Linked DNA regions of Homo sapiens. The protein of the gene in region 1 purifies or fractionates together with the protein of each later gene. This does not show direct contact. Each region holds a gene or a part of one and is shown on either strand. Other genes may lie near its edges. The genes, in order: ZNG1A, AGAP1, ERF and TRMT6.

Region 1 (9,041 bases):
CAGAGGTGGCAGTGAGCTGAGATTGCACCACTGCACTCCAGCCTGGCGACAGAGAGAGACTCCATCTCAAAAAAAATAAAATAAAATAAAAAATAAACGTTTTTTCATATGTCTAGATTTTTACTTCTGGAGTCATTTATTTCATGTAAAAATGTAGTTTAATTCTGTTAATAAGAATTCCAAAGTTATACAAAATAAAATTTTATTAAAACTAATTTCAGTATCTCAACCCATATAAATCTTAACAGAAATTAATCCAACTTTTCTAAAGCTATCCACATCAATACAATACCTTGCATTTTCATTTTTAAATATGGAATATCAATTCACCAGAGGAATAAACAGTCACACAAAATCTTGCAACATGACATTTATTGAACTTTACTTACCTTCCCCAAATTCATTTAAAATGACCGCTACTCTTTTACTATGTTGCTCTGTCAAAATATAGTTCAGAAGTGTTGTCTTCCCAGCACCTATAAAACATATTTTTTGTAAATAAAAAAATTCAAAATAATTTTAAAGATACAAAAAACATATAAAGAATCCTAACGTTTTTGAGAATTTGCGTGCTATTTTTCATATATTATTTTAGCATAGAATATCCTAGAGGATAAGATTAAAGCATCCTTCGAAACCTGTTGCAAAATACTTTATGTAGACATAAAATTTTATAAATATTTACAAACACTCCTACAAGTTGAAACAGCTTCTTCAACCTAGCCTAACCTTCCCTAAAATTTACACACAATCTTTTATTTATAATGACCTTTTATTTCAACATTAACAAGACGCAACTTCAGGCTGACTATATGGCTACTTATAGTATGCTTTAAACAATCTATAAAAGTTTTTATGAAATGGGGAATAGAGCCAGGTAGTGTCAACAATGGACAGAATGTTCAGTAAGATAAATTCATAAAGCTATACCAACTTTATCCAGCAGGTGGCATATAAAACCCAATATGTCAATCTCCAGTAGAAAAAAAATAGTCTTGTGAACCGTACACACTAAAATTCATAGAGGAAAAAAAGAAAATCCTAACTGCATAGTATTGTAGTTCAATTGTATGACTATATCATTTCTTTATCTTTTTTTTTTGTTGGACATTTGGTTTGTTTCCAGTGTTTTACTATTACAGTGCTGCTAAAAACTTTTACATGTAGGCTATACATGTCTTCTGAAATACATTAAGTTTTCTAGTATATAACTAGATCTTCCTATAACTAGGAAGATTTTACGGAGTATTAGGGTATTAATATCTTTTAGGTCATATTCCTTTCAAAGCTTTTTAACAGATGAAGGCTTATATTTAGAGTACTTTAGGAAGCTCAACATCACAAAAATATGAAGTATAGAATGGAAGAGAGAGACTTAGGGCAATGAGGAAAATCTTAAAACCAGTCCAAGCCTGAGACAGAGGCCCTGAACATGAGTGTTTCACAGGGCAGTGATGTGAAAACTGAAAGGAAAGGGTGAATGTAAGAAATCTTCTAAGAGAAGATTTACTAGGGCTTTTTAACCATATTATGAAAAAAAAAAACACTTTAAGACATAGCTCATTCATTCGAAGGTTTCTAATACGTTACAAATTTATGCTGGGCCTTGGTGAAAAAGTGAACAAGATAGTCTCTGCCTTCATAGAGCTTAGAAATATCAAGGGAAGGGGGGAATGGAGGGGAATTCAGTGAATAAGGAGGCAATTATGTCACAGGGTGACATATTCAATAGGAGATGCACAAATTGCTATGGAGAACCTAAGAGGGACATCTAGCCAGAGGAGTCACAGTAAAAAAGTACCTATTCCAAGGGGCTAAAACACTTGGCACCTTTGAAGTAACATTAGTTCATTGTGCGGGGCCAATTTGGCAGGCTGGAAAGGTTGGCAAGATCCAGATCCTACAGGTCCTTGTAATTCATGTTAAGGAATTTGGATTTTAACCCATAGGGATGCCACTGAAAGGTGTGACGCAGTCGGATTGACATTTATAAAGATCATTAAGGCTAACATGCAACGAATAAATTAAAGGGCAGCAAGACTCCAGATTAGTCAGGAGGCTTTTAGAGTATTCCAAATGGTTGGGATCACAGAAGCAGGATTTGGGGGGATGGTAACAGACGAAGTTTCAGACATGTTAAGTTTTAAGTTGTAGGACATCAAAATAGAAATTACACAGGTGTGTAGCTAAAGATGGACAAAGGGGGAAGGAGGAGGGAGCCTTAAAAAGAAGCCAGAGAAGCAGGTGGAAAAATCAGAAGAAAAATGTAGTAGAAGCCAAAAGAACAGCGTTTCAAAAAGGGAAAATGGTCAGGGATAGGAGTGAAACTATCCCTAGATTCAGCAACAAGGTTGCTGGTATTAATTCTCACTCCTGAGCTTCAGATCATTTTCTCCAGTGATCTACTGACCTACCAGTGAGCAATACGGGAAAGGCCCGAGCGGCACGTTTGAAATACATTGTTTTGGACAAGAAATTTGTTCATCTTCTCAGCAGAGCAGCCTCTGAATAACTGTGGGGAAACGCCAAAAATAAATTCCTTTATAAAATTACTTCCGAGCAAAAAACGGGAATAAACTTACAGTCTACAAAGTTTTTAAAAAAAACAAAAGCAGTTATTTCTTATTTTTACATAAAAGGTCACGAAGTGGCCCAAGTCTGTACCTGTCTCTAGCAACAACTAGGAATATTATTTCCCGGAAACAGTATTTTATTTATATTTCTTAACTTTTTCCAAACTTCTAATACAGCCATATATTTGTTCTAGCCCTTCTATTTAACTGTAAGGTTTAAAAATATATTTCTCAAACTTTTCCAGTAAGAAACTTCTAGTGTAAGTGCATAAACCGCCCTTCACGAAACTACCAAGTTCACAAACTTGTGGTTTCGAGTATCCCTGTACACTCTAAACGTTCTTAGTTTGAGAAATAGTCTTGGAGGACAGAGATTTTATTCTTACTTCCTACGCAGTGGTTTACAAACAGACCTCAAAAAAAAAGTGTTTAAGATAGGAGCGCTCCCTGCCAGCTGGCTGGAGGACTCTGGCTCGTGGGGAAGGGGAATCTACTGACGAAAGCCCCACGTGTCGGGCATTTTACAGACGGGACATCCTTTAATGGCAACAGGTAGGTGGTTCCGGCCCTGTTTCACAGGTGACAGGTATTTCTCCATTTTCAGGTGAGGTAGATGAGCGTCAGGAAGGTAAGATAACTTGGTAAGAGGTCACAGAGACAATTAGGGGGGCGTGTCTTAGCGTCAAAGCCTTGCTTCAAAGGCTAACTTTCCATCTCACTTGAGAAATGGGAATCTAACGCAGAGGGGGCCGGGCATCATTAACTCCCAAGATGAGAGGCAACCCATACGAGAAGCAAGTGACCCAGCCCCGACCTCGAAGACATTTGCTCTTGATCATGAGGCCCCAATGCCTCAGGAGAAGAGGCACCGGCAGCCCGCAAAATCCCATGACACCAGAGGTCACGCCATTTTGTGACTGGGATGGTTAGTTACCTAAATACCCGGTGATAATTGTGACTGGGATCTTGGCGCCGAGGCCAGACTTTTCCTCCTCCTCGCTTTGCGTCGTCTCAATGGGAACCAATTCAGGACAATCCTCCTCCGCAGGATCCTCCTCCTCATCCGCAGATCCAACAGCCGGTAACATTCCGGCCTACAGCACGTCCCTACCTCAGCTGAACCGCTGGGACCAACACGCCGTACCGCAGCCGCGCACGCCCAGCACGCCACTCCCGGCCTGCCCGGGGCCTGACGTCATCACATCGCGACGCTCGCTGATCCCGCCCGGATTACCTGGGCTCTGGACGAGAAGCGCCTCGCCCCTTAGCCACACCCCCCGGGGAGGTGGGCTCTCCCCGACGACAGCTGGACACGCCCCTGGGCGTGTTCTGTGAACCTGAGCGACGCTGCGGAGAGTCCCTAGGGCGCACTAACCACCTGTCTGAAGGTGTCACTGGCGCCTAGAGCCTTAATAAGCTACTGGCTGTAGGTAGAGCTGAGGCCAGTCTGCTGGAAATCTGGAGTGGGTAGCCTGACCTAACCAGTTCCCACAGGGCATAGATTTTATCACCTTGATTTTTTAGTCTCGTTAAAAAAAAAAGTTTTAATTCATAGGGGAAAGAATGGAAGGTTATAACATTATAATTTTAATTGTAATTTTTATACCTGAAGGATAACCAGTGACACTTTTTTCTTTTTTTATTATTACATATTATATATGTAATTCCAAATTTTTAGTATTCATGCATCACTTTTATTTACTTTTTTCTCATTATTTATTTGGACCTCAGGTAACCTAAGTTCATTAATCATATTTGCTGGTGCATGACACTCTCATCACTAATCCATAGATAGCCCTTCTTTCTAATATAAATTTATAGTGAACTCCTTTGACGTCATTCCTAACGTAAAAGCATTACCAGTAAGTTACACGTACCTATGTGCACCGCCCCTGCTTCCAATCCACAGCCTGCCCCATAAGATAGTAACAACAGTCATGAATTGGTTCTGGATTGCTGATCATTCCCTGTTTTCTTTTTAATTTTATCACATATCCCACGTACGTACTTAGAGAATATGTTGTTTAATTTTGGGTGTTTTTGAGCTTCATAAAATTATCCATATAATATATAAACTCCTGAGGCTTGCTATACTTTTCAGCATCACTGCTGTCTTGTATTCTATTGTGTGGCTACACGGCAATTTATTCATTTCCTCTCAATTGTTCCAGGTTTTGCTCTTATGAACAGGGCTGCTATGAACATTTTTCCTGATATATGTGTGTGCAACTTCCTCTTGAGTGTCTGTGTAAGAGTTGAATTGCTGGGTCCTAGATTATTCAAATGTTTTACTTCACAAGAAAATGCACAATTATTTTTCAAAATGTTTGTACAAATTGATACATTTTCCCAGCAAATTATAAGAGATCTCATTGGTCTGTAGGTCAATATTATCAGGCATGCATTTTTCACCAATCAATTGTGTACAAAAGAAGACTTCATTGTGATCTTCATTTGCATTTCCTTGATTACTAACAAGGTTGAGAATCTTTTCATGTGTTTTGGCAATATTTAATTCTTAGAATGACCCTGTAGAGTGTTATCCCTCTTTCAAACATGAGGCACCAAGAGTTAAGTTACTTGTCCAGGTTAGGTCATAAAAATCTATCTGATGCACAAGTAGAATGTTTTACTACTATCCTGATGCCAAATAAAAGGTTGACTTTTCCTTCCTTCTCTGAAATTCCCCATAAAATATACTGTGTGTATTCCATTAGTTCTACTGATAAGGACATATAACTTGAAAGTATTTATCACGCCTTTTGCAGAACACAGTTAAGACAGAGGGTTTATATTTGTGCAAATGAGTATATTATATTCACACATACACTCGGTCTGAGAAATCAGGTCTTGAATGCTTTGCCAGCTTTGACAATGTAACCATGAACCAGCTGAGGAAGAAATAAGGCAAATACCTTAGGCGTGGTGGTTCAGTTCACTTTATTCTACCAAAGGAGAGAAGCTGTGATGGGTAGCCCAAAATAGATAGCTTACACCCTAAACACAATGGTTCATAAGCTTTTTCGTTTCAGGAATGCTATGAAGTATTGATTTTTTTGGCAACCTAAGGGAAGGAGTAACATTGCACCCACAGGCATCACACTATTTGCTTGATGTCCCTTCAGCACTGCATTACTGCCTGAATAGCAGCTATTACAGCCCTCACCACCTTCTTTGACATATTTTTTAAAGTACATTCTTGTGGGTTCCCAATATGGCACTGGCTGAATGTTATACTAAAATCCCTCTTTCTGTTTTTTGAGACAGGGTCTCACTCTGTCGCCCAGCATGGATTGCATTGGCACGATCACAGCTCACTGCAGTCCTAAACTCCTGGGCTCAGGTGATCCTCCCATCTCAGCCTCCCAAGTAGCTGGGACTCCAGTCATATGCCATTACATCTGGCTAATTTTTCTTTTTCCTTTTGGTAGAGACAGGGTCTCACTATGTTGTCCAGTCTGGTCTAAAGTCTCATCTCTAACAATGAGCAGCCTGTAACCTATGAGGCCAGCTCAGTCAAGTTGACCAAATAGCATTGTTGTAACAGTATGTAGCCTCAGTGACAGCAAAATAAGTTTTACACATTGGCCAAAAATTAAATGCACCACAAATATCTATCAACTGATAGACAACTAAAATGTGACAAATGGATAAACAAAATATGATCTATCCGTACAATGGAAAATTATTTGGCAATAAACAGGAAAAAGGACTGATACCTGCTACTACATGAACCAATCTTGAAAACATTATGGTAAGTGAAAAAGGCTATTCACAAAAGACCACACGTTGTATGATCCCATTTACATAAAATATCCAAAATAGGCAAATCTATAGAGACAGAAAGTGCATTAATGGTTCCCAGGAGTGGAGGGCTGGGGAGAGACTACAGTGGTTTTTGGGCAGTGATGAAAATGTTCTAAAATTGATTATGGTGATGGTAGTACAACTCTGATTATACTGAAAACCATTGACTTGTACACTTTAAATTGGTGAACTGTATCATATGTGAAATTTATCTCAATAAAGCTGCTATTCTTAAAAGAAATAAACACCTATCTGTGCATCAAAATGGGGTGCCTGTGTACATTTGTAGAGAAACACTGTCTTCAGCAGTTTCAAGTTCTGGCCTCAGGCACAAGTATAAAGATTACAGCTTGATAAAATTTTTCCTTTAGTCTGTTCCATATTCCTCTTCAGTTAAATTTTTATCTATGGATTCTGTGGAGTCCTGTCATTTTATTTTCTCAGATAGAGTTGTAATTTCAGTTCTCCCAAAATAGCTGGGCATGACTTTTTATTTTTATTTCTTTTTTCTTTTTGAGATGGAGTCTTGATCTGTTGCTGAGGCTGGAGTGCAGTGGCACGATCTTGGCTCACTGAAACCTCTGCCTCCGGGTTCAAGTGATTCTCCTGCCTCAGCCTCCTGAGTAGCTGGGATTACAGGTATGCACCACCACGCCCAGCTAATTTTTGTATTTTTAGTAGAGACGAGGTTTCACCACGTTACCCAGGCTGGTCTTGAACTCCTGACCTCCTGATCCATCCACCTCAGCCTCCTAAAGAGCTGGGATTACAGGCGTGAGCCACTGTGCCGGGCTTTTTTTTTTTTTTTTTTAACTTATAAGAGGGTTAAATTGTTAAATTGTTAAATTGAAAATGCCTTTTTAAATAAGTATGAAATTTCTTAATTATAATATTTTAGAATCTATTACAGTTTCTGATGTAACTTAAAAATTCCTCCTCATTTAGCTTTGCTATTTTGTCTCATTTACTTTACGGTAAAACAACAACAACAACAATAGTAATGTGTGGAGCCCGTAAGCATCTGATAGGCACTGTGTGAAGCACATTAAATGCATTATCCCATTTAACTCTCCAAGGTAAATACTATTTGTGTGCCCATTTTATAGATGAGGAAATTGAGGCTTAGAAAAGATAAATACCTTGCTCAAAGTCATACAATCAGTAAATGGCAGCCCTTGGGCTCAATCCAAACCTGCCTGACACTAAATCTCCTGCTCTTTTAAACCAGAAGATCTGCAAACTTTTCTGTAAAACTAGATGATAAATATCTTAGTCTTTACAGATCAAAAAGCAAATTTGAGGACATTGTGTAGGTACTTATATAATATAAGAGAGAGAGCAAATGTCTACAAGTTTGAAATTTGAATTTCATGTATTAAACAAAATTATGAGAGGCCATTGTTTTGGACTGAGCTCCTGCACTAATCCCAAGCAGACCAGACCAAACCAAAATGGAGTCACTCATGGTAAGCACCACAAAATCAAACTAAAACGTTAAAAAACAGGTCCCAAAATAGACGAGTTTTTTTTCTTCTCCTGAAGACAGAAGATTCCAGTATAATAAGGAAGTCCTCTCTGCTCTATCCCTTACAGAAAAGTAACCCAAAGTAACAACAGATTACTTACAAAAAAGCAATCTCAGCCAGACACAGTGGCTCATGCCTGTAATCCCAGCACTTTGGAAAGCCAGGGCGGGTGGATCACCTGAGGTCAGGAGCTTGAGATCAGCTTGGCCAACGTGGCAAAACCCCATCTATACTAAAAATACAAAAATTAGCTGGGTGTGGTGGCACACGCCTGTAGTCCCAGCTACTCGGGAGGTTGAGGCAGAAGAATTGCTTGAACCCAAAAGGTGACGTTGCAGTGAGCCAAGATTGTGCCACTGCACTCCATCCTGGGTGACAAAAAAATAAAAAAGTAATCTGATGTTAACCAATCAGTTTTTTTTTTTTCTATACTGTTTCCTTGTTCCCACCTTACAAAATCCAGTGTTCTGCTATTTTCCAATGGGATTAGAGACCAAATAACTCTATTTATGATGATAAAAAGTGATGTCAATGCCTAAAGTTTTGGGCAACCTCAAAATTAATCATCCTCTCAAAATTGACAGGTTGACCAAAAGGAGGAATTGTTAAATTCATTGTGGCCTAAAGCTGCCTCCTTACATATTTTAAGTTTACCCTAAAGGTTTCCCAGTACATAAAAAACTATATTTCAACTTGATATGTAAAACTTGATATGTAACCTACTCTTGTAACAAGTAGTGAGTCTCAGCCAATCACAGCAGCTGAACTTCAGCCAACCACAGGCAGCCAACTCTTCAAACCAGGTTCAAATAAGGCAAATGCTCAGCTGTAACCAACCCTACTCTGGTTCTGGGGGCTGCCTAATTCACAGATCATTCTTTACTCAATTAAACTCTAAAGTTTTCCTTTCAACATGTATAATTTTCACATCACGAAATAATAATCTTCTTTAATTTTTTTTCCAATGTATTAAAAATGTAAAAACCATTTGCAGGCTACACAATAAATGGTAGCAGGCTATAGATTCCCAACTCCTGATCTAAGCTAATATAATATACTGTTTTCTTAAGCAGAGTTAATGAAATTTTGCAAAATTGGATCCTCCTTGCTCTTTTAAACTCAGTTTGTAAATCAC
Region 2 (8,194 bases), on another chromosome or scaffold:
TCTAGCGGTGCTGCAGAGTCTTGAGTTTTCAGTATCTGTCACGCTCTTTTTTGAGAAACCAGAAACCATCATCAGTAGCCACAAAGTACAGGAGCTGCTCGCCTGGGGTCCTTCCTTTGGGTCAACATAAACATGCCTTACTGTTGGTTTCCTCTTCTATTTGTTAAGCTTCTCATCTCATCCTGTCCTCTCCTTCTTAGCCCTCCCCACAGATGTGTAGCAGGGTCCCCATCCTCTGTAGACCCCCCAGGAGGAGACCATGTATTACACTGGCCAGGTCGGGCAGCCCCATCTCAGCCAGGTTGTGATGCTGGGGCCGGGGCGGGCAGGCATCAGCATCATCCACTCTCCACACCTCCGACCCCATCCACCCCCTCCCCAGCTTTGTCCTCTCCTCTGCCTCTGGGCTCAGCTCTGGCTTCTGGGAGCTACCTGCCTGTTTCCCAGGCCCTGGAACAGTTTCCCCCAAAAAACTCAGCCATTCCTGACATTCTGTCCTTTCCACTTAAGCCTTCCCCAAGTATCTGGAGATTCCAAAAGCTGCATCTCCCTGCTAAACCTCCTCATTGGAGTCTCCACCCTCTCCTGCGTGAGTCTGTTGCCATGTTTTCCTCAGCTGAAAGGGTTTGGAGACCCTGGGGAGTCCACACACACCCCCTATTTCGGAGTTTGAAGCTAAAAGCACATGGTCACCCCCAGGTGTGGGGAGCGCACCGGCTGTCCCTTCCCCCCACCCCCGGCCCAGCTCCAGCCAAGTGTCCTATAGCCCTCACTTACAGTCCTGCTTACAGTAAAGCAACTCTCGGCCCCAGAGACCATGCTTCCATCGTGCGGTCCGTGCTCTCGGCCCCGGAGACCGTGCTTCCATCGTGCTGGTCCCAGGCAGTAGGGTGGTTTCCCCTGTGCATCGGTGTGTGAGAGCCACTGATCCAAGGCCATGGCCTTGAGCCCTCACTTGGTAGTTTTCTTTCCAAGGACAGCTTCTACACTAAAAGTGACAGAAGCAGCACCAAGGCAGTGTATGAGCCTGAGATCAGCGGCTCTCACACCTTGGGCCTATTGGAATCCCCTGCAGGGCTTCTTAAAACACCCCGAGAGGTTTGGATTCAGGGGGTCTGGGGCGTGACCTGAGAATCTGCATTTCTGGGCTGATGCTGCTGGTGAGGATACTGTTTTGTGAAGGTGGATAAACGTTTCCCCCAGGGGGCTTTGTGCCGAGTGAAGACCTTTGCTTTCTGTTATTTCACTTCCCTCTCGGCTTCTCCCGACCACACTGGGCAGGGGCTGGCAGCCTGTGTTCTCGGGCCTGATCGTGACTGCACCTGTCTGGTGGCTCTTTGCAGGGAAGAGAAGGAACGGTGGATCCGTGCCAAGTACGAGCAGAAGCTCTTCCTGGCCCCGCTGCCCTGCACGGAGCTGTCCCTGGGCCAGCACCTGCTGCGGGCCACCGCCGACGAGGACCTGCGGACGGCCATCCTGCTGCTGGCACACGGCTCCCGGGACGAGGTGAACGAGACCTGCGGGGAGGGAGACGGCCGCACGGCGCTGCATCTGGCCTGCCGCAAGGGGAATGTGGTCCTGGCGCAGCTCCTGATCTGGGTAGGTGGTCGGCACGCCTGGCAGAGGACGGGGCCACAGGAGGCACTCTCTGCTTTGTTCTGCTTCCGTGGGCATCTTTCTGGCAGAAGGCTGTTGTTCTCGATCTGCAAGTGGAAACAGTTCCTAATGGGAAACTCTGATTGAAGAGCAGAGGGCCTTACGGAGAGACAGCCGGTCCTCCTTGTACAGTACTTGCTAGAGTTTCTGAAAATTGCAACTTTGTGATTGCCCCTTATCAAGCAGGGTTGGTGCTATCCCTCTTTTTTCATTTCCATCATCTTCTGGAGAGAAGGCGGTGTATTAACGGGATGGCTTGTAGGGTTTCCCCATTTCCAAACCTTTGGTGTTTTTATTCACTTAACACAGAAATACTGGACCCTAAACTTTGAGGTCTGATGTGGCAGGAGTTTGTCAAAGGACTTCTTTCGAACCATTCTGATTAATTTCTACTGGGGAAAAGTATTATTTACATTCCTATTGAAGCATGTGTCACAATGCTTGAAGGAGTGAAAGAGAAGGATAAAGTGGTTGTGCAGAGAGGCCCTGCCTGTGCCACCCAGGAGCTACGTCTGAGAAGCCACGCCCACTTAGGGGCTGCCTGTGGACCCCTGGGGCTTCTGCTGAGGCAGGTTCCCACCAGAGGCAGGCAGAAAGCTGCCGGCAGGGAGGCTCCCCAGATAGGGAAGGCAAGTGTGTGCCCAGAAGTGGAGACAGCACCCAGAGGTGGGACACCCAGCTGGAGGCTCTTCTGTCTCCACCCGCAAGGCAGGATGGGTCAGTCCAGCACAGCAGCACGTTCTACAGCAGCATGGGTAGAGTGCAGCAGGTTTCTGCATGTTTTTGATCTGACTTTTTTGTTTTTTGTTTTTTTGAGACAGAGTCTCGCTCTGTCACCCAGGCTGGAGTGCAGTGGTGCGATCTCAGCTCACTGCAACCTCCGCCTCCCAGGTTCAAGCAATTCTCCTGCCTCAGCCTCCCAGGAAGCTGGGATTACAGGTGCGCACCACCACGCCCAGCTAATTTTTGTATTTTTAGTAGAGACGGGGCTTCACCATGTTGGTCAGTCTGGTCTCGAGCTCCTGACCTCGTGATCCACCCGCCTCGGCCTCCCAAAGTGCTGGGAGTACAGGCATGACCCACCACGCCCAGCCTTGATCTGACTTTTTTGATGGGTGCAGTTGGTGAATGAGTGAGATATAGACACTACACCAAAATCACACAGATACTCCCTTTTGCTCATGAGTCATACATGTGATGTAATGCACATTAAATAAGAGTTGTGTGTAGTGTGCTAGGGCTGCCATAACAAAATACCACAGACAGGGGTGCTTCAACAACAGACATTTATTTTTTCACAGTTCTGGAGGCTGGAAGTACAAGATCAAAGGGCCAGCAGGAATGGTTCCTGGCGAGGCCTCTCTCACGGCTGGTAGACGGCCGCCCTCTCCCTATGTTCTCACAGGGCCTTTCCTCTGCACTCGCTCCTGGTAGCTCTCTCCTTTCCCCCCACCCCCTTCTTTTTGGGACAAAGTCTTGCTCTGTCGTCCAGGCTGGAGTGCAGTGGCACAATCATAGCCCACTGTAACCTCAAACTCCTGGGCTCAAGCAATCCCCCCACCCTAGCCTCCCAAGTAATTGGGACCACAGGCATGCCACCCCCATGAATGGCAGTTTTTAAAAAATTTTGTAGACTTACGTTCTTACCATATTGCCCATGGGTTTTGAACTCCTGCCTTTAAGCAGTCCTCTCACCTCGGCCTCCCAAGGTGTTGAGATTACAGGTATCAGCCTCCCAGCCCAGCCTTTTCCTCTTCTCATATAGATACTAACCCTATTGTGACCTCATTTAAGCTAATACACCACCATAAAGGCTCTGTCTCCAAATACAGTCACATTCTAAAGTACTGGGTGTCAGGACTTAAACATGTGAATTGTTGGTGGGAGCGGGGGACACAGTTATAAATTACAGGCCATCTTTGCTTCTCCAATTGAGCAAAAATTCCTTTGATGGCGCTGGTTCCATGCTGTTGAGTGGCCTCAGACTCCCACACATTGTGAGTTGGCAGAAGTGGAAGTGAATTCACTCTTTTTCATGAGCAAAAAGCTTAAAAACGTTGTGTACTTTAACCTCATATTTTCCCCCTTCTGATCATCACTCTAATAATCAATCACAGATCCTAAGAAAGATTCTATGTGAGGACATACATCCGGGCACTGTTTCTTCCAGTGACAATTTTTTTTTTTTTTTTTTTTGAGACAGAGTCTCACTCTGTCTCCCGGGCTGGAGTGCAGTGGCACGATCTCGGCTCACTGCAACCTCTGCCTCCCGGGTTCAAGCAATTCTCCTGCCTCAGCCTCCTGACACTAGCTGGGATTACAAGCGTACACCACCATGCCCAGATAATTTCTGTATTTTTAGTAGAGACGAGGTTTCACCATGTTGGTCAGTCTGGTCTCAAACTCCTGACCTTGTGATCCGCCCTCCTCGGCCTCCCAAAGTGCTGGGATTCCAGGCATGAGCCACCGTGTCCGGCTCCAGTGACAATTTTTACAAAGTGTGCACAGTTGAGGGGAGAGTTCTGAATTCTGTTCATGTGGTGGAATACTGTATGACTTGCATATGTCATGCTTTTTGAGGGGTGGGGAGACAGGGTCTCACTCTGTTGCCCAGGCTGGAGTGCAGTGGTGTGATGTCGGCCCACGGCAGCCTCTGCCTCCTAGGCTCAAGCGATCCTCCCACCTCAGCCTCCTGCATAGCTGGGACCACAGGCATATGCCACGTGCCCAGCTAATTTTTTTAAAATGTGTTTTTTTCTAGAGACAGGGTCTCCCAGTATTGCTCAGGCTAGTCTTGAACTCCTGGGCTGAAGTGAACCACCGCACCCAGCTTGTGTTGTGCTTCTGAGTAATTTTTAATGATGTAAGAAAATGATCACAGTATAGTAATCAATAAAAAATGAAAAAAATACAAATTATTTGTACAGTCTTATCTCAATTATGTACATATACATGTAGATTCAAAGAAAACTCATTGAAAGGAAATACACTAATTCACAAAGGTTATCTCTAAGTAGTAAGATTATGGGTGATTTTTTTTCTTCTTGAGCTGTTATGTGTTATTTGTGTATTTCCTATAATGAAAATTCTGAGATCAAAACAATGATTTTCTTTGTGCAATTGGAAAGTCAAAATAGAAACAGCAAAACTAAAGTTATCTTTGATTCCTTAATGTTGCACAAAGGAGGGGCTTTCAGTTGAAAAAAAAAGACATGTTCTTTCCTTAAAAGAATCCGCTGGCCACGGGTGCAGGCTGTGCCACCAGCACTGGATGGTCCTGGCACCCCAGCCAGTTGTGTAGCTGGCCCCGCTGTCCAAGCACAAGCCACATGCAAGGGCTGAGAGAAAGCTTCCCTGCCCCCTCCCTCCATCACATCCCCCATGATACTAATGTGGGCTCCCTTACCTCCGCAGTACGGAGTGGACGTCACGGCCCGAGATGCCCACGGGAACACAGCTCTGGCCTACGCCCGGCAGGCCTCCAGCCAGGAGTGCATCGACGTGCTGCTGCAGTACGGCTGCCCCGACGAGCGCTTCGTGCTCATGGCCACCCCTAACCTGTCCAGGAGAAACAATAACCGGAACAACAGCAGTGGGAGGGTGCCCACCATCATCTGAGGAACAGCCGTGCCCGCCTGCTCGCCGCACCTGGGACGCGGCAGCCTCGCCGCATTCTCGCTCAGAAGTCGCAGCACGTGAGTCCCGTCGCATCCCCTCCCTCTTCCTGGTGGCCACCTCCCTCCCGCCCACCCACTCTCACCCCAAACAAAATCACAAAACCTGGACATCCCTCAAGGGGCGAAGAGGCGGCCGGGAGACTGCAGAAGTGGCTCCTTTTCATAAACTCCCCTAAACCACACACAGGAGAGAGCGACGGGCCTCGGCCCTTTGATGATAGCACATGGCGCAGGACCCTTGTCCTGGTGGCACAAGGGATGGGGACGCGAGGGGGAGGGGAGGCGAGGAACAAGGAGAAGGGGCAACTTTCCTTAACTGGCAGTTGAGCACATAGTACATTTCCCCTCTACCAAACGGAACACTTGGATTCCATCTCTTCTCTGAGGAGCTCGACGGCATAAATCAGAAGCAAGCACAGAGTTTGTCAGGTTTGAAGCCCCTATGATGGTGTGTGTCAAATCAGTTGTAGCTAATCTGTCCAGGGAGAATACTGGCTTCATTACACTTGTACAGCCGAGTTCTTCCCGCATTACTGCTGTTTAATAGAACGTGATTAGTCATCGCCGAGAAGAAAGCATATTAGCCGAGGAGGTAGTCACGCGGCACGCGCCGGTGATTGCCACGATGTGATTGCAATACTCTTAGAAGCACCATATTATCCCAGACATGTTCTTTCAAGCCCTTGGAGCCCTCTCTAAATTCACTGTCATCATTTAGTATCTGTTTAATTTTTCAGTCCAAAGAGAGGAAATCAGTCGCTGAGTATTATTTGACTCCGGTCTCCTTGGTGCAAAAACAAAATGGGAAAAATAAATAAGAATAACTCAGAAACTCAAAAGGAAACCACAAATTCAGCTAATAATAGCATTTCGAGTATATTTCGTAAACTAAGGAAATACACAAAAGGCTGTTTTTTCCGACTGTAAGAGATATTTGATGTCCTTTTGCCGAGGTGGATGTGTTAGTCTCAGGCCCTCCTGGACCACGTTGCCCAAGTCACACAGGCTTCTGTGTTATGTATTTAGATAAGATGTGTGAAAATATATTTGAATAAAAGAAGTTCATAAATATGCATTGATTTTTGTACAGACAAATGGCACCTCTCTTAATTTATAAATTGAACTGGATGTGAACTAATAATGTGCAACTAGTTGAGATAAGAGGGTTACAGATCATTGTACATGGAAAATATTCCCAGCAGTAAACACTTCCATTAATGTGATCTACGGCTTTTGAAAAGGAGCATCTCAGAATAAGATGGTGGTACAATTTGCTTATTAAAATTGAGAAAGAAAAAAAAAGACACACTGGAGTATATTAGAAAGGAAAAAGAAGGAATGTGGTCTCTCATGATTGAAAGCATGATTTAGATCGGATACGGCTTTTGCTAACCAAGGACCAAGGGACTCTGGCAAGATGGGGTGGTTTTCCGAATGCCAGACCGAGGTGCCTTACGAAGGCAGCTGCCAATGGTTCTGTGGCACAGACTGGCTCCTGAGAACCCAGACGACCTTGACCTGGCAGCCCGGCCCTCCACGCTAGTACCTCGCCTGATTTTCCATCGTTGCGGTATCCAGCCGCTTCAGACGTCCGCCGCCTTCAGTGGTGGTAGTCAAATGTAGTCAACCAAACCACAGCATCCCTTAGGTTAAAAGCAAACGGGGCAGCTTTGCCTAGAGCTCATTGACAGTGTGATGGGGGGAGAAGGGTTGTCACAATGGAAGATGAGGACACTAGACTCATGTAGCACAGAAACATGAAGCCACACGCACCGGCAGCCTCCGGGGTGTTCCTCGCTCTCTCGTATGTTAAACCTTATATTTTATAAGAGTTTTTCCTCTTATTTCACTTTTTAAAAAAAATTAAAGTAGGTGGGGAAAAAAATAAAGCTTTACACAGAATTTATATGTGGGTAAGTGTTTCATGGAAATTTCTAATCTTAACGAAGCTAAGTGGAGCTCACTCGTATCCAAAAGTATAACAGGTGCAGAAGCCACAAGTCTGAGAACCTTGACGACAGTTCCATCGTCCTGCCATTTGATTTTTCAGTCTGCGTTTCATCACTGTGTAGCTATTGTAAATGTGAATAGAAAAAAACAGGTCATTGCCTATTTTTGAAGAACGCGTTGGTGTTCGAGTCCACTAGACACACTCGCTCCACACAGCCTTCACCGTAGACTCTGTAGTGGACACAGATATAGCATAAATGAAATTGTTAAATTATTTCATTGTAGTTAATTCCCACTATAGGAATGCTTTATCATAGTGAAGTTTCTTTTGAGAAGAAACGGAACTCCTTGAGGCTTCTCTTTGGGATGTATATGAGCGTGTACATATTATTCTATGTGTTTATAATATAATATTTTCCCAAATGACTTCTTGTTTCACTTTGCCTTCCACAACCTGAATGCCAGATTGGTTTTTTCCCTTCCTGGCCCCCAGCACAAGCTGCCATGACTCCCCCTCAGAAAACACAGCCCCTCCTCTACCATTCTCAGTGATGTCCATCTGCTCCACTCCGCAGCCACTTTCTAGGGCCCAAGTTTTGGTAGCAGAAGGAAAGGCAGTTTTTGAGGGTCTTTCGAAAAAAAGAAGACGGGGCAGCTTTGCCCAGAGCTCGTTGGCAGTCTGTTTGTATTTCAGTGTCTAACCAGAAGTCCTTTCTTTGCGGACCGCACTCTCGTTCCCACTTTCAAGCTAATTACCACCAAGGCTGGGAGAGGCAAGGACTGGGGGCGGAGCTAGGAATAACTCGTTTGAGAAGGGGGTGGAGTTTTCGTTGTTCATTTCCATGTTCAGTTCTGTGACGTGACGATGACAGATCACCACTGCAGGATCCCCCTCACCTTTCCTGTTCAGA
Region 3 (8,063 bases), on another chromosome or scaffold:
GCTTGAACCTGGGAGGAAGAGGTTGCAGTGAGCTGAGATCCTGCCACTGCACTGCATCCTGGGTGACACAGGGAGACTCCATCTCAAATAAATAAAAAAAAAAATAAATAAATTTTTTGTAGAGAGAGTCTCACTCTGTTGCCCAGGCTGGTCTTGAACTCCTGGCCTCTTGAAATTCTCCTGCTTCGGCCTCCCAAAGTGCTGGGATTACATGTGTCAGACACAAACTGCAGCCAGCCTGTTTATTGCTGTTTACTCTAACTGTTGTTACAGTTGGAGTCTGTAGGGTAGAGTGCTCTTGTTATCCATGGGGCATAGAGTTCACTCTGCTAATAATTATTAACAGTATTTATTGCATACTTACTTTGCATCTCTGATTTTTCTTTTTTTCTTTTTTTTTTTTTTTTAAGACGGAGTATCGCCCTGTCACTCAGGCTGGAGTGCAATGGCATGATCTCGGCTCACTGCAACCTCCGCCTCCCGGGTTCAAATGATTCTCCTGCCTTAGCCTCCTGAGTAGCTAGGATTACAGGCGCCAGCCACCACGCCCAGCTAATTTTTGTATTTTTAATAGAGACGGGTTTTCACCATGTTGGCCAGGATGGTCTGGAACTCCTGACCTCAGGTGATCCACCTGCCTCGGCCTCACAAAGTGCTGGGATTACAGGTGTGAGCCACCTCGCCTGGCCACATCTCTGATTTTTCACAATAACTTGATCATGTAGGATCTATTAACACCTCCATTTTACAAATGAGGAAAATTGAGGCTCAAAGAGGTGAACTTGGCCAGGCGCAGTGGCTCACGCCTGTAATCCCAGCACTTTGGGAGGCCAAGGAGGGCGGATCACGAGGTCAGGAGATCGAGACCATTCTGGCTAACACGGTGAAATCCCGTCTCTACTAAAAATACACAAAATTAGCTGGGCGTGATGGCGGGTGCCTGTAGTCCCAGCTACTCGGGAGGCTGAGGCAGGAGAATGGCGTGAACCCGGGAGGCGGAGCTTACAGTGAGCCGAGATAGCGCCACTGCAGTCTGGCCTGGGCGAAAGAGCGAGACTCCATCTCAAAAAAAAAAAAAAAAAAAAAGAGGTGAACTTCGCTAGGCAGGGTGACTCACACCTGTAATTCCAGCACTCTGGGAGGCCAAGGTGGGCGGATCGTTTGAGCCCAGGAGTTGGAGACTATCCTGGTCAACACAGAGAGACCCCAACTCCACTAAAAATAAAAAAAAATTAGCTGGGTTGGCTGGGCATGGTGGCTCACGCCTGTAATCCCAGCACTTTGGGATGCTGAGGCGGGTGGATCATCTGAGGTCAGGAGTTCAAAACCAGCCTGACCAACATGGAAAAACCCCGTCTCTACTAAAAATACAAATTAGCTGGGCGTGGTGGCGCATGCCTGTAATCCTAGCTACTCGGGAGGCTGAGGCAGGAGAATTGCTTGAACCCAGGAGACGGAGGTTGCGATGTGCCAAGATGGTGTCACTGCACTCCAGCCTGGGCAAGGAGAGCAAAACTGCGTCTCAAAAAAAAAAAAAAAAAAAAAAAGCTGGGCATGGTGGTGGGCGCTTGTAATTCCAGCTACTCAGGAGGCTGAGACAGGAAAATTGCTTGAACCAGGGAGGCAGAGGTTGCAGTGGGCCAAGATCGTGCCATTGCACTTACAGCCTGGGTGACAAGAGCAAAATTCCATCTCAAAAAAAAAAAAAAGTAACTGGGCATGGTGGCATGTGTCTGTAGTCCCAGCTACTCAGGAGGCTGAAGTGGGAGAATTGCTTGAGGCAGGGAAGTCGAGGCTGTAGTGAGCCATTATTGTGCCACTGCAATCCAGCCTGGGCAACACAGTGAGACCCCCATCTCAAAAAAAAAAAAAAAAAAAAAAAGAGGTGAACTGAGTTCACTTGCCTTGTCAGAGACAAGAAGTAGCAAAGGTTGGGTGTAACAGCCAGGTGTGGTGGCTCACACATGTAATCCCAGCACTTTGGGAGGCTGAGGCTGGCGGATCACGAGGTCAGAAGATTGAGACCATCCTGGCTAACACGGTGAAACCCTGTCTCTACTAAAAATACAAAAGATTAGCCGGGCGTGGTGGGGGGCGCCTGTAGTCCCAGCTACTCAGTAGGCTGAGGCAGGAGAATGGCGTGAACCCGGGAGGCGGAGCTTGCAGTGAGCCGAGATGGGGCCACTGCACTCCACCCTGGACGACAGAGTGAGACTCCGTCTCAAAAAAAAAAAAAAAAGGTTGGGTGTAACTCATCTCTGTCTTGCTGGTGGGAGGGTAGGGGTCACTGGGTTTGTTACTGATGTGTTATCTTTTTGTTTGTTTGTTTGTTTTGAAACTGAGTTTCGCTCTTGTTGCCCAGGCTGGAGTGCAATGGCGCGATCTCAGCTCACCGCAACCAACCCCCTCCCGGGTTCAAGCGATTCTACCTTAGCCTCCCGAGCAGCTGGGATTACAGACATGCACCACCAAGCCCGGCTAATTTTTTGTATTTTTAGTAGGGACGGGGTTTCTCCATGTTGGTCAGGCTGGTCTCGAACTACAGACCTCAGGTGATCCACCTGCCTCGGCCTCCCAAAGTGCTGGGATTACAGGCGTGAGCTACCGCGCCCAGCCTTTTTATTTATTTATTTTTAGACGGAGTTTTGCTGTTACCCAGGGTGGAGTGCAGCGGAGCGATCTCGGCTCACTACAGCCTCCGCCTCCTGGATTCAAGCGATCCTCCTGGGTTCAAGCGATTCTCCTGCCTCAGCCTCCTGAGTAGCCGGGATTACAGGTGCGCCACCACGCCTGGCAAATTTCTGTACTTTTAGTAGAGATGGGGTTTCACCATGTTGGCCAGGCTGGTCTGGAACTTCTGACCTGAAGTGATCTCCCGCCTCGGCTCCCAAAGTGCTAGGTTTACAGGCGTGCGCCACTGCGCCGGGCCCTGATGTAGTATCTTTGAAAATCTGCATTTTTTTTTTTTTGGAGGGGGTAGTAAAAGAGGTAATAAAGCATAATGGTAAAGGGTAAATGTGGTGGTTTGGAATTGGTTAGATCTGGGTTCGAATCTTAGTTCCAATACTTCCTGGCTGTAAGATTTAGTGGACTGATTTTCCCTCAGAGAGCATCACTTTCTTTATCTGTAAATGGGGATAACAGCAGTAATTCCCCTCGTTGGGATTTTGTGAGGATTAAATGAGAAGATGCCCCTGACAATGCTTGGCCCGGTGCCTGGCACATCATGAACACTCGGAATTCGGGAGCTGTTATTCGAACAATGAAGATGATTATTATTGCTGGACCACACCGCTCCCAGAGGGTTACAATATCCGTGGGGGAGCTGTACTGTCCGTAGGCAAGGTTACATAATTCCCGGGGGTTGTGGGGGAAAGCTTCCCTGGAGCCCTTGGTCTCCCCAAGGAGGAGGCCTGAGACTTTTTTTTTTAGGCACTGGTGAGGAGCCTGTCTAAGGTGGACTAGGTACCCCGCAAGCGAGGAGGCTGGGATTGAAGCCCTGGGTACCGGGAGCCTGAGCTCCGCAGGCCTTCCCTATCTGTGACTTTTCTGTCTCCCCGCCCATCTTCTGGATTCGTCCCCCACCCAGCCCCCCCAACTCCCGCCCGCCACCCATACGCCCCTCCTTCGGAACCTCAGAGTCTTTTTTGAGACTCTGTTTCCAGGCTATGCCTGTGAATATTGCTTCTATTTGGCCTCTACCCTGCTGCCGGCTCCTGGGCTCCATCAGATCTGCGCTGTGATTTCCTGTTTCCCAGAGCCTCAGGCTTCATCCTTCCCTCCCGGCTGAGGCAGAGAACGGAGACTTAACACTTCTCTACGCTCTGGCTTTCGATCTTAAGCCCTGTCTTCCTCTCTCCTGGCGACCCTCAGTGCCCCTTGGGAGCACATTTGTTCAGACTTTGGTCGCCCCCTCGTATCCCGGCCCCGCCTCCGGAACCCCCGGTCCTAGTAGTGGACGTGGGGGGACCTCCGGCGCCAGCCCTATCCCCGGGACAGCTGCAGCCTGGGGACGGTGGTGGTGGGGGCTTCCAAATGCATTCTCTCTGGTCACTTCCTCCCCAGCTGGACGGGGGTTATCAGGGAAGCCAAGACCCCATCCCCACAGGAGCGGAGGGCACAGCCGCCTCCCCATTTCCGATGCTGGGAAATGCATCCCACCCATTCCACCCCACCCCTGGACAGCTGCCCCCATTCAGGCTCAGGGTTGGGGGGTTGGGTAAAACCAAGCTGGGAAATGCTGTGGTCTTCATCATCTTCTAAGGTCCTGACCCCGCCCCTCTGCAGAGAAGATTCTGCCCCCTCCCCACAAAAGTTTCTGACCCCCGCTTCCTCGGAAGGGCCCCCCGTTTTCCCATACAGGCTCCCAAAAGAAACTCTGGAGCCCGCAGTGGGCAGGAGAGGAGGAGGGGCAGCAGGTAGCGAGTGCCGAAGACTTAAGTTAGCTGCAGACTCGGAGCCTCTGACTAGGGTCATGACCCGCGGGACCCCATCCCACCCCCACCCCCTCCTTCCTCCCTCCCCCGCCGCGCGGCCCCTTTAAGCCCAGAGCCGGCCGGTCCTCAGTGGCTGCGCGCCGACGAGCGTGTGTGTGAGTGCGCGGGGAGGGGGCGGGCGCAGTGTCTCCATGGCGACGCGGCGGTGACGTCGCCGGCCGGGGGGCGTGGGCGTCCCGGCCCCGGAGTGCGATATTAACCCGGGAGGCGGCGGCGGGGAGGGGAGAGGCTCTGAGAGGCGAGGCCGGGTGAGGCGGCGAGGGCGGCCCGACGGGCGCGGGACGGGACGGGGCAGCGAGGGCGCCGGGAGCCGCGGCCCGGAATCGGGGCGCTTCGCCCCGGGCCCCCCAGCATGAAGACCCCGGCGGACACAGGTGGGGGCGGGGGCAGCACGTGTGGGGGAGACTTGTTGCCCCGGGAAACCGAACGGAGAAACTTTGGGGGGGCTGAAGGGGTCCGGGGGAGCCCGAGTGATCCCCAGTTCTGGGGGACCCCTCAAGCACTGGAGACCTGTTGCTTCTCGTGGCGCGAGCGGGGTTGCTGCCTGGGACCCCCGATTCCTGGCTCCGGGCGGAGTGGTGTGGGTGCTGCGGGTCTTGGTCCTGTATCCCTACCGGGACCCCGCAGGCCGGGCTCTCCCCCACTCCCGGGATCACGGGGGTGGCGGGGTCCTTCCCCTCCGCTCTTGTCACGTTGCACTCTGGGGGCCGGGACGTGTGCGGGGCGGGGGGGCTCGTCCACCGGGCCCGCTATCCCTGGTTCTGCGCTGCGCGGTCCTGCTGGTGACCTTCACGGCGGCGCGTGCCCTGCACCAGGTTAGCGGGGGATACGGGATGGCCTCTAGGAGGAGGGCGTGAGTGGGGAGCCCGGGACTCGGGGTCCTGGCTGCGCCGCCCCTCCCCCGCCCGCCTCTGTCGGCTCCTCGCTCCCCCGCCCTCGCCGAGTCGCAAAGTTCCAAAGCGCAGCCCGAACGTTCGAAAAAGGAACTTTTTGTTTCCGACCTTAGAACGCGCGGCTTTAAGGTGGCTCCGGGGAGACCTGGGTACCCTCCTCCCGCGCCACCGGTGGCCCGGGGTTGAGGAGGGTGGGGAAGGTGGGGGGAGACGCAGAGGCTCCCCCCTCGCCCCCCCTCCCGGATCCACCTCTTCTCTTTCAGCGGGCCGTCTCTTCCCTCCGCCCCTCTCTTCCCCGCCAACTTGCTCCTCCTTAAGGGGCCAAGGTTCCCCTCCCCCTCGGTCGGCGGGCGGGGGGCAGCGGGATTAACTCCCCCTCCCACTCGGACTTTTCCCCCTCCCCTCCCCCGCCGCCCCCGGGCTCGCGCGGGCTGGACTTTGCGCCCGAGCGCGCAGGGGGAGGGGTCCCAGCCGCCCCCTGCCCGTCTACCCCGTCGGAATCCGGCCCGGGGCGGGGACGGGGGAGGGGGAAGGGGGCCGGGCGCCGCTGTTCAAACTTGTTTCCTTCCCCCGGCGGCGGCGGCGGCGGCGGCGGCGGCTCGGGCTCCTGTGTGCGGGTGTGTGCCCCGACCGGCCCACCCACCCCACCCCATCCCCACCCCATTCCCACCCCATTCCCATCCCCATCCCCCTGCTCGGCGGGTGGGGGCGGCTTAATCTTAAAGGGCTCCGAGCTGGGATCCGGCGCCAGGGGATTGGGACCCGGACCGAGGAGGGGCCCTGGGGGTGGGGCCGGGGTGCGGAGTGCGGTAGGGTCAGTCACGTGCGTCCTACACACTCCCCCGGCTTCCACTCGCTCCCGGGTGGCTGGGCCCTGGGGGCAGCAGGAGCCTACCCTCGCCCAAGGAGGAGGCCGAGGCACCCAGACAACCTCGCTTCATCTTCTCTCCCTGCTACCGGCCTTGGCCTGATAGGATCCGCGGGTCGCTTCCCCAACCCTGTCGGGGGGCGGGACAGTGTGTGGGTTTTCCGGCTGGGGGAGGGGAGGGGAAGGAGGCCTGGAATGGCCTCCGATCGGTGCATCTTTCCCGTCTGCCTCCTGGCCTGCCGCTCCGCACCCCTCCATCCAGTTCTCCATCCCGGTCCCTCTCTCTGCCGTGGCTGTTTCCCACTTCCTGTTTTCTTCCCGGCTCTGGCGCCATAGAGGGCCGCCTGGAGTGGGGGAGGTGGTGGGGCCCCCCAGGAGGCCGGCGTGTTCTTCCTCTGCCACCACTCCTCCCTTCCGACCCTCATAGTCCCTTAAAAAAAGTTTGGGCCGTCACGTGAGGTTGGGGGGTGCCCAGGAGTTTTGTCCCCCCAGGCTTGCATAGTCTGTCTGGGAGAATCCCTACCCCGCCTCTGTGGGACCCAGGTGTGCTTCTGGGACCTCGCCATCCCAGCCCTTGCTGTCTGACTGCTGCCACTTCTGCACTCTGTCTCGCAGTCTCCTGAACCCCTCTCTCCATGTGCCTGCTCTCTCCCTGCCTCACTGGCCCCCATGTTCCCGAGGTCCCGCACCCCCAAGCTTCCTCCGTGCAGGTCTGGTGTTTCCCTGTTTTAAGCACGTGGACGCATACACAGCACACTCACACATGCTCCCCTTGCCCGTGCCTGGCTCCTGGCTCCAAGGCCTGGGGAACAGAGCCCCATTGAGACACCCTGACGTCACCCCCTCTTCATTCTCCCCCCCCCAAAGCCGGGAACAGGCCTTCATGTATGCTGTGTCCGATGAGGAAAGCCGCCGTTGTGGTGGGCTTGGGAGTGGGGAAGGGTCCCTGCCAGAAGTGGGAGCCAGGGTCCAGGCCCTGGAGGAGGGGTTGCTCAGGGAAGGGGTTTAACAAGGGGGCCTGGGACAGCTCCCAGAATGCGGCTTGAGGCCTTTCCAGAGCCCCCCCACCTCCTTTCCGAGTTCCCTTTGTGTTGCATGTAGTCTCTCTCACTCCCTCTCTTCTGCAAAGTTTATTTTTAGCCTCCTGCTCCCCCGCTCCCAGGACTGTCGCTGCACACACGTTGCCTGGTTACCGGGACACGGAGGCTGGGGCGGGTGGGCTGGGAAGGGTGGCTTTAATTTTGGGGGGAGGGTGGAAGTCAGTACATCCCCCACCCCCAGATTGATGTCTCAGGGGCTTTGGCCCCCCTTCTAGGTCTAGAGCCAGATTGGGGCTGAGGTGGAAGTAACATGGAGCTTGGTTCCCTGAGAGGGGCTGGGAGCTTTTTGGAGGGGATATGAGGGTCCATGAAGCTGGTGGCTGGGTCACCTGGGTTCCAAAGGACCCTGGGCCTTGCAGGAGACCTTGTGATCTGGATTCTCTAGAAGGGTGAGGATAATGGGTTGAACACCTAGATTCCCAAGAGAGCGATGGTGCTCTGGGGTCTCTGGAAGGGGTTGTCAAAGGCTGTCACTTTTAAATGGAACAGGGGCTGTTGGTGCTGGTCTGTGAACAGCTGGAGGTCATATCCCTGGCACCCTGAGGGGCTGGTGGAAGGCTGGGATATATCTGAATGGGGCAGGGACTCCGGGGGCTATGTGGTACTGCAGCCCAGTCTGGGCAGGAGTTGGGGGCCTACAGTGAGCTCTGGATTTGGAGGGGGTGGTCCCTGTGGGAGCAGGAACTACTGATTCCCTGGATTCCCA
Region 4 (5,000 bases), on another chromosome or scaffold:
ATCTACAAAAAATATAAAAATCAGTCGAGCATGGTGGCAGGTGCCTGTAGTCCCAGCTACTCAGGAGCTGAGGTGGAAAGATTGCTTGAACCCTGGAGGTCGAGGCTGCAGTGAGCCGAGATCCCACCACTGCACTCCAGCCTGGGTGACAGAGTAAGACCCTCTCTCAAAAACAAAACAAAATAAAAATAGAGATGTCTCTGTTTCTTTCTACAGGGATGGAGATTTCTCATGGCTGTTACTCAGAGAATATGCCCCTGACTTTTTGTGACCCTTTTTTTCTCTTGTTATGTCAGAATATATTACTCTGTAACTCTGCCCTAAAGGCATTTAAAATGCAAACCATTATGGTTCTTATTTCCCCAAGGCCTCAGTATCACTGTGGATGATGTAATTGACAATAGCAAAATTCCCAGGTGGATGAGAAACTGGCCCTTTCCTCTCTGCCAGGATGTTTTTGCAGCAAGTTTTCAGGATTTACTGGTGGGCTCTGTGTCAGTTCAGGTCTTCTGGAAGACATATGCTAAGATGGAAGTTGAAGTGTAAGAGATTTATTGAGGGAAATGCCTTAGAAAGATAAGGGGAGAGGGAGCAAGATTGGTGGTGCAGGTTGATGCCTGGGCAAGGAGCGGGTAGAGAAAGGAGGATGGTAGGAAGAGCCTGCAGTGCTGCTCTGGAGAAAGTCTCCATGAGGCTGATGGCGAGCCCAAGTGGAAAGATCGCCATTCAAGGAGCCCTGTGTTAAGCAGAAATGCTCCAGCTCTGGTACCCATGCTCAGTTACTGACTGGAAGCAACCCATGGCCTCCCTCGGTATGAATGCTGCAGTGGATCCCAAAGGAGCGGCAGCTGGAGGTGTTCTACTGCCTGAATGCCTCTCAGCTGTTCCCTCATGAAGGGAGATCTGAGGGGAGCACCTCCATGCTGCCGTAGGCCCCGTCTCATTGCTTGGTGTCTTACCATACTGTAGTGGGGATGCTATTGAGCCTTGGGTAACCCTGCCCTTTGTGGAGGTTGTCTGTCTTGGCTAAGGTTACAGGAGAAAGAGGAGAGAAGTTGCCTTGGCAGAGTTAACAGGGTAGCGGGGAAGGGAGGTTTGGAGTGTAGTACATTCAGTAGCAACTTCTCCATAGACCCAAGCTCCATTATTGGCCATGAAGCTTCCTGAAGCCAGGAGAAAGAAAGCTATATGCACAGTTCTAGAGTACTGCCAAGACCATTACCCATTCTCCGCCAGAAACATGCTTCAGTTTCTAGATAAACCTGGGCTGAACTGAAAACTGCTTCAGTTCTTTTTCTTCTCTTTTTTTTTTTTTTTTCATTTTTGAGACAGAGTCTCGCTCTGTCGCCCAGGTGGGGTGCAGTGGCGCGATCTTGGCTCACTGCAACCTCTGCCTCCCGGGTTCAAGCAATTCTCCTGCCTCAGCCTCCCGAGTAGCTGGCATTACAGCTGTGTGCCACCACGCCTGGCTAATTTTTGTATTTTTAGTAGAGATGGGGTTTCACCATGTTAGCCAGGCTGATCTCAAACTCCTGACCTTGTGATCCACCTGCCTCAGCATCCCAAAGTGCTGGGATTACAGGCGTGAGCCACCATTCCCGGCCAGTTTTATTTTTCAAAAGAAAATCAATTAAACCAATTTCTACACTTTTCTTTGCATTGTAATGTGAAGAAATTAGTCCTTAGAAGTTGGTCCATTTAAAGCCTGGTGCCGTGGCTCGTATCTGTAATCCCAGCACTTTGGAAAGCCAAAGTGGGAGGTTCACTTGAGGCCAGGAGTTCGAGGTTACAGTGAGCCAAAATCTCACTACTGCACTCCAGCCTGAGGAACAGTGAGACCCTGCCTCTTAAAAAGAAAGAGAGAGAGAGAAAGGAAGGAAGGGAGGGAGGAAGGAAGGGAAGGAAGGAAGGAAGGGAGAGAGGGAGGGAGGGAGGGAAAAGAAAAGAAAGAAAAAAAAATGTCCATTTAAATCATCAAGAGAACCTGTGTTGTTTAAATTCTGATTTTTGGTATATGTGTTGTTAGCATGGACTTTATTGTCTTAGGAAAGCATGAATGTCTTTTCTGTCTTGATTAGGTTTTGCCAGATCGAAGTCATCCTAAACTGCTGATGAGTGGAGGTGGGGGTTATCTTCTCTCCGGCTTCACCGTTGCCATGGACAACCTTAAAGCAGACACCAGCCTCAAATCTAATGCAAGCACTTTAGAATCACACGAGACTGAGGAGCCTGCAGCTAAAAAACGAAAATGCCCAGAGTCTGACTCTTAACCCTTTTGAGAATTGCTCTGAATTTTGTTCTCAGGCATTATACAGTTAGTAATTAAACTTTAAATGCCATTACTACTTGTTTTTTCATATCCCAAGAATAAGAACATGTCTATGTACCCGTTTCTAGGAAGGAGGAGTATATGCCTTTTGTCTATTTCTGACACAGATGCATTTGGTCTGTCAAAACTGCAACCATGGGGTATGTAGTATGACCAACTGCATTTAACAAAACTCCTCTAAGTACTTCTAAATATTCTGTGCAAATATCTTGAGAACTTCAACATCCTAAAAATGTGTTTCTACAAGACTTTATATTTTAAGCTAAGTGGAATAATACAACGTAACTAAAACATGGCGGGTACCGAAAGGAGGGCAATTCATGGAAGAAATTTCCTCTGTTCATTCCGTTCTCTTCAACCTAAGCAATATGGATGTGTGAGTGTGTGATTTATTATGGTACCAAAAATGTCCACCTTCTTTCCTGCAGCGGAATAAGCTTTTTTGAAATGCTGAGGTTTTATTTTAATAGTTGACAACCTGGGAAAGTTCTGAGTATTTATTTTACTGCTCTTTTTTGTGCATAGAAAGGTTTAGTAGGGTACTTTTTTGCATTAATTTGCCAATACTCTTATTCTTTGTTCTAAATAAAGTGACTAGAATTTTTGTGTACTATTCAATTAAAGGAAACAAATGTCTTTTCCCCCTCTATGGTCTTATGGATACACATTTGCACACACACACATATGTATATAGATGTTGGTATATATACACACATATATTTATATATACACAGATATATACATACACATGCAAGTGGAGACATAGATTGTACCACCTGTATGAATATGTATGTACACATGGGGACAGAAAGAGTGTGCAGTCTATTTGAACTGTATCAAAGTCTTGTGCAGGACTTAGACCAATTCTCATTGTATTAGTGTCATTCCTTGTCAAATGTCCCTAAAGTGCCTTTCTTGATTATTAATGCTGAAGAACTCTGTCATGATTAGATGGTTACCCTTTCTAAGCTCTGAAAAACTCTAATCATTTGATCATGTGCTGTAGCAAAGAAAGTGTTTAGAATCAGCCAAGGCTCTTGTTCATTTGAGAGATTGAGTCTTGCTCACTGGAACATGGTCATCGTTTGCGTTGCTCCTGTCATAGAATAGGCCTGTATCATACAGCAAGGAACATCTCAGAAAAAAAATTTTTTTTCCAAATAGCATGTGCTATGCCAATGTGATTACTAAGTACAATTTTGAGTCCTTTATCCTAATTGCTATTAAAGAATAAAAATGTCGGCCGGGCACAGTGGCTCATGCCTGTAATCCCAACACTTTGGGAGGCCCAGGCAGGCGGATCACCTGAGGTCAGGGGTTCAAGATCAGCCTGACAAACATGTTGAAACCCCATCTCTACTAAAAATTAGAAAATTAGCCATGCGTGGTGGCTAACGCCTGTAATCCCAGCTACTTGGGAGGCTGAGGCAGGAGAACCGCTTGAACCCGGGAGGCAGAGGTTGCAGTGAGCCGACATCACGCCATTGCACTCCAGCCTGGGCGACGAGTGAAACTGTCTCAAAAAATAAATAAAAATGAAAATGTTTCCTACTGTGATTCTTCTAACAGTGATGCAGTCAGTGATGTCCTGTGGGCTTTCGGCCGATTGTGACGTGGTCTGTCTATTGTAGAGGACATGCCTGGATTGGCACCTCACGGAGTGTGTTGCAAGCTGGTGTCACACACACATGTAGCTAATCAAGTTTGGACAAGGAGAACAGAAAACTGCATAGATTAGAATCAGTAGTGGCTGGTCTCCTGGTTACTGGTTTGCAAGTTGCATTCCGTTCCCTAAATCTTTTCTCTTGAGTTTCTTGAGCAAGGGGTCTGGGGTCTGAGCTACCAAGGCCCTGCATGCTCATGTTACCTTGTGAACTCATCTTACCAATGCCAACAGCATAAGTTAATCTGTATTTTTTTTTTTTCTCATTCATATAGTTTACTTAATCTGCGTACAGATGATTGAATTCTGTGGTTTGCAAACTTAGCATTGGAAAACTTAGATTCCCCTGGAGGGCTTGGTAAGCAGAGGCCACTGGGCCCTCCACCCCACAGAATAAGATTTCAGTACTTCTGGAGTGGTACAGAGCATTTGCATTTCAAGTAGTTTCCAGGTGATATTGGTGCTGTTGGTCCAGGAACCGCCCACTGGGAACCACGACTGTGTGCATGCACATCATGGGTACAGCTAAATACAGGATGTTTTTGTCTTGTGTTTAAAATGGACATTCACCTTTGGAGCAGATGAACGGATAATTTTATGATTTTTGGACATCCAGCCACCAGAGGAGTTATGTAGAATAGCACTTTAATGAATGGCAATCAAGAAGTCAAAGACAAAAATCATTCTGTAACATCCATCCTGTTCCTCCACTGGACTAGGGTACTTGGCAATATAGCATGGCACCCATTACAGGGCATTTTTTAGCTTAAAGGTACACTCAAATTGTATGAAGCAAATACTGAGCAATCATTCATGCATTGGTTGTATATTGAAAAGCCAAAAATAGCCTTTTCTCAATACATAGTGAAGCTTTGGGAAAAAAAAATGGAGTGTTTGCATGTTGTTTTAAAGTGTTGGTTGTAAGTATTGCAAGAACAGTACTAAATACTAAAACGCATGTCCTAAAAATCCATGATCAGGATTCACTTTATCCTGATTTTGTAATGC

What was found.
Region 2: the proteins of ZNG1A (region 1) and AGAP1 purify together in Homo sapiens (affinity purification with mass spectrometry; 3 studies listed by BioGRID and IntAct, with this or other methods). This does not show direct contact.
Region 3: the proteins of ZNG1A (region 1) and ERF purify together in Homo sapiens (affinity purification with mass spectrometry; 3 studies listed by BioGRID and IntAct, with this or other methods). This does not show direct contact.
Region 4: the proteins of ZNG1A (region 1) and TRMT6 purify together in Homo sapiens (affinity purification with mass spectrometry; 3 studies listed by BioGRID and IntAct, with this or other methods). This does not show direct contact.

The regions. Positions count from the first base shown.
Region 1 is NC_000009.12:175,309-184,349, forward strand, and holds the start of ZNG1A (zinc-regulated GTPase metalloprotein activator 1A), read right to left. Parts: upstream 3,749-9,041; 5' UTR 3,662-3,748; coding exon 3,508-3,661; intron 2,513-3,507; exon of another isoform or gene 2,461-2,512; coding exon of another isoform or gene 2,415-2,460; intron 477-2,414; coding exon 390-476; intron 1-389. UniProt on the Homo sapiens protein: Zinc chaperone that directly transfers zinc cofactor to target metalloproteins, thereby activating them.
Region 2 is NC_000002.12:236,118,849-236,127,042, forward strand, and holds part of AGAP1 (arf-GAP with GTPase, ANK repeat and PH domain-containing protein 1), read left to right. Parts: intron 1-1,343; coding exon 1,344-1,599; intron 1,600-5,070; coding exon 5,071-5,274; 3' UTR 5,275-8,194. UniProt on the Homo sapiens protein: GTPase-activating protein for ARF1 and, to a lesser extent, ARF5. Directly and specifically regulates the adapter protein 3 (AP-3)-dependent trafficking of proteins in the endosomal-lysosomal system.
Region 3 is NC_000019.10:42,251,785-42,259,847, reverse strand, and holds the start of ERF (ETS domain-containing transcription factor ERF), read left to right. Parts: upstream 1-4,719; 5' UTR 4,720-4,848; coding exon 4,849-4,870; intron 4,871-5,212; exon of another isoform or gene 5,213-5,311; intron 5,312-5,948; exon of another isoform or gene 5,949-6,006; intron 6,007-8,063. UniProt on the Homo sapiens protein: Potent transcriptional repressor that binds to the H1 element of the Ets2 promoter. May regulate other genes involved in cellular proliferation.
Region 4 is NC_000020.11:5,935,805-5,940,804, reverse strand, and holds the end of TRMT6 (tRNA (adenine(58)-N(1))-methyltransferase non-catalytic subunit TRM6), read left to right. Parts: intron 1-2,078; coding exon 2,079-2,270; 3' UTR 2,271-3,577; downstream 3,578-5,000. UniProt on the Homo sapiens protein: Substrate-binding subunit of tRNA (adenine-N(1)-)-methyltransferase, which catalyzes the formation of N(1)-methyladenine at position 58 (m1A58) in initiator methionyl-tRNA.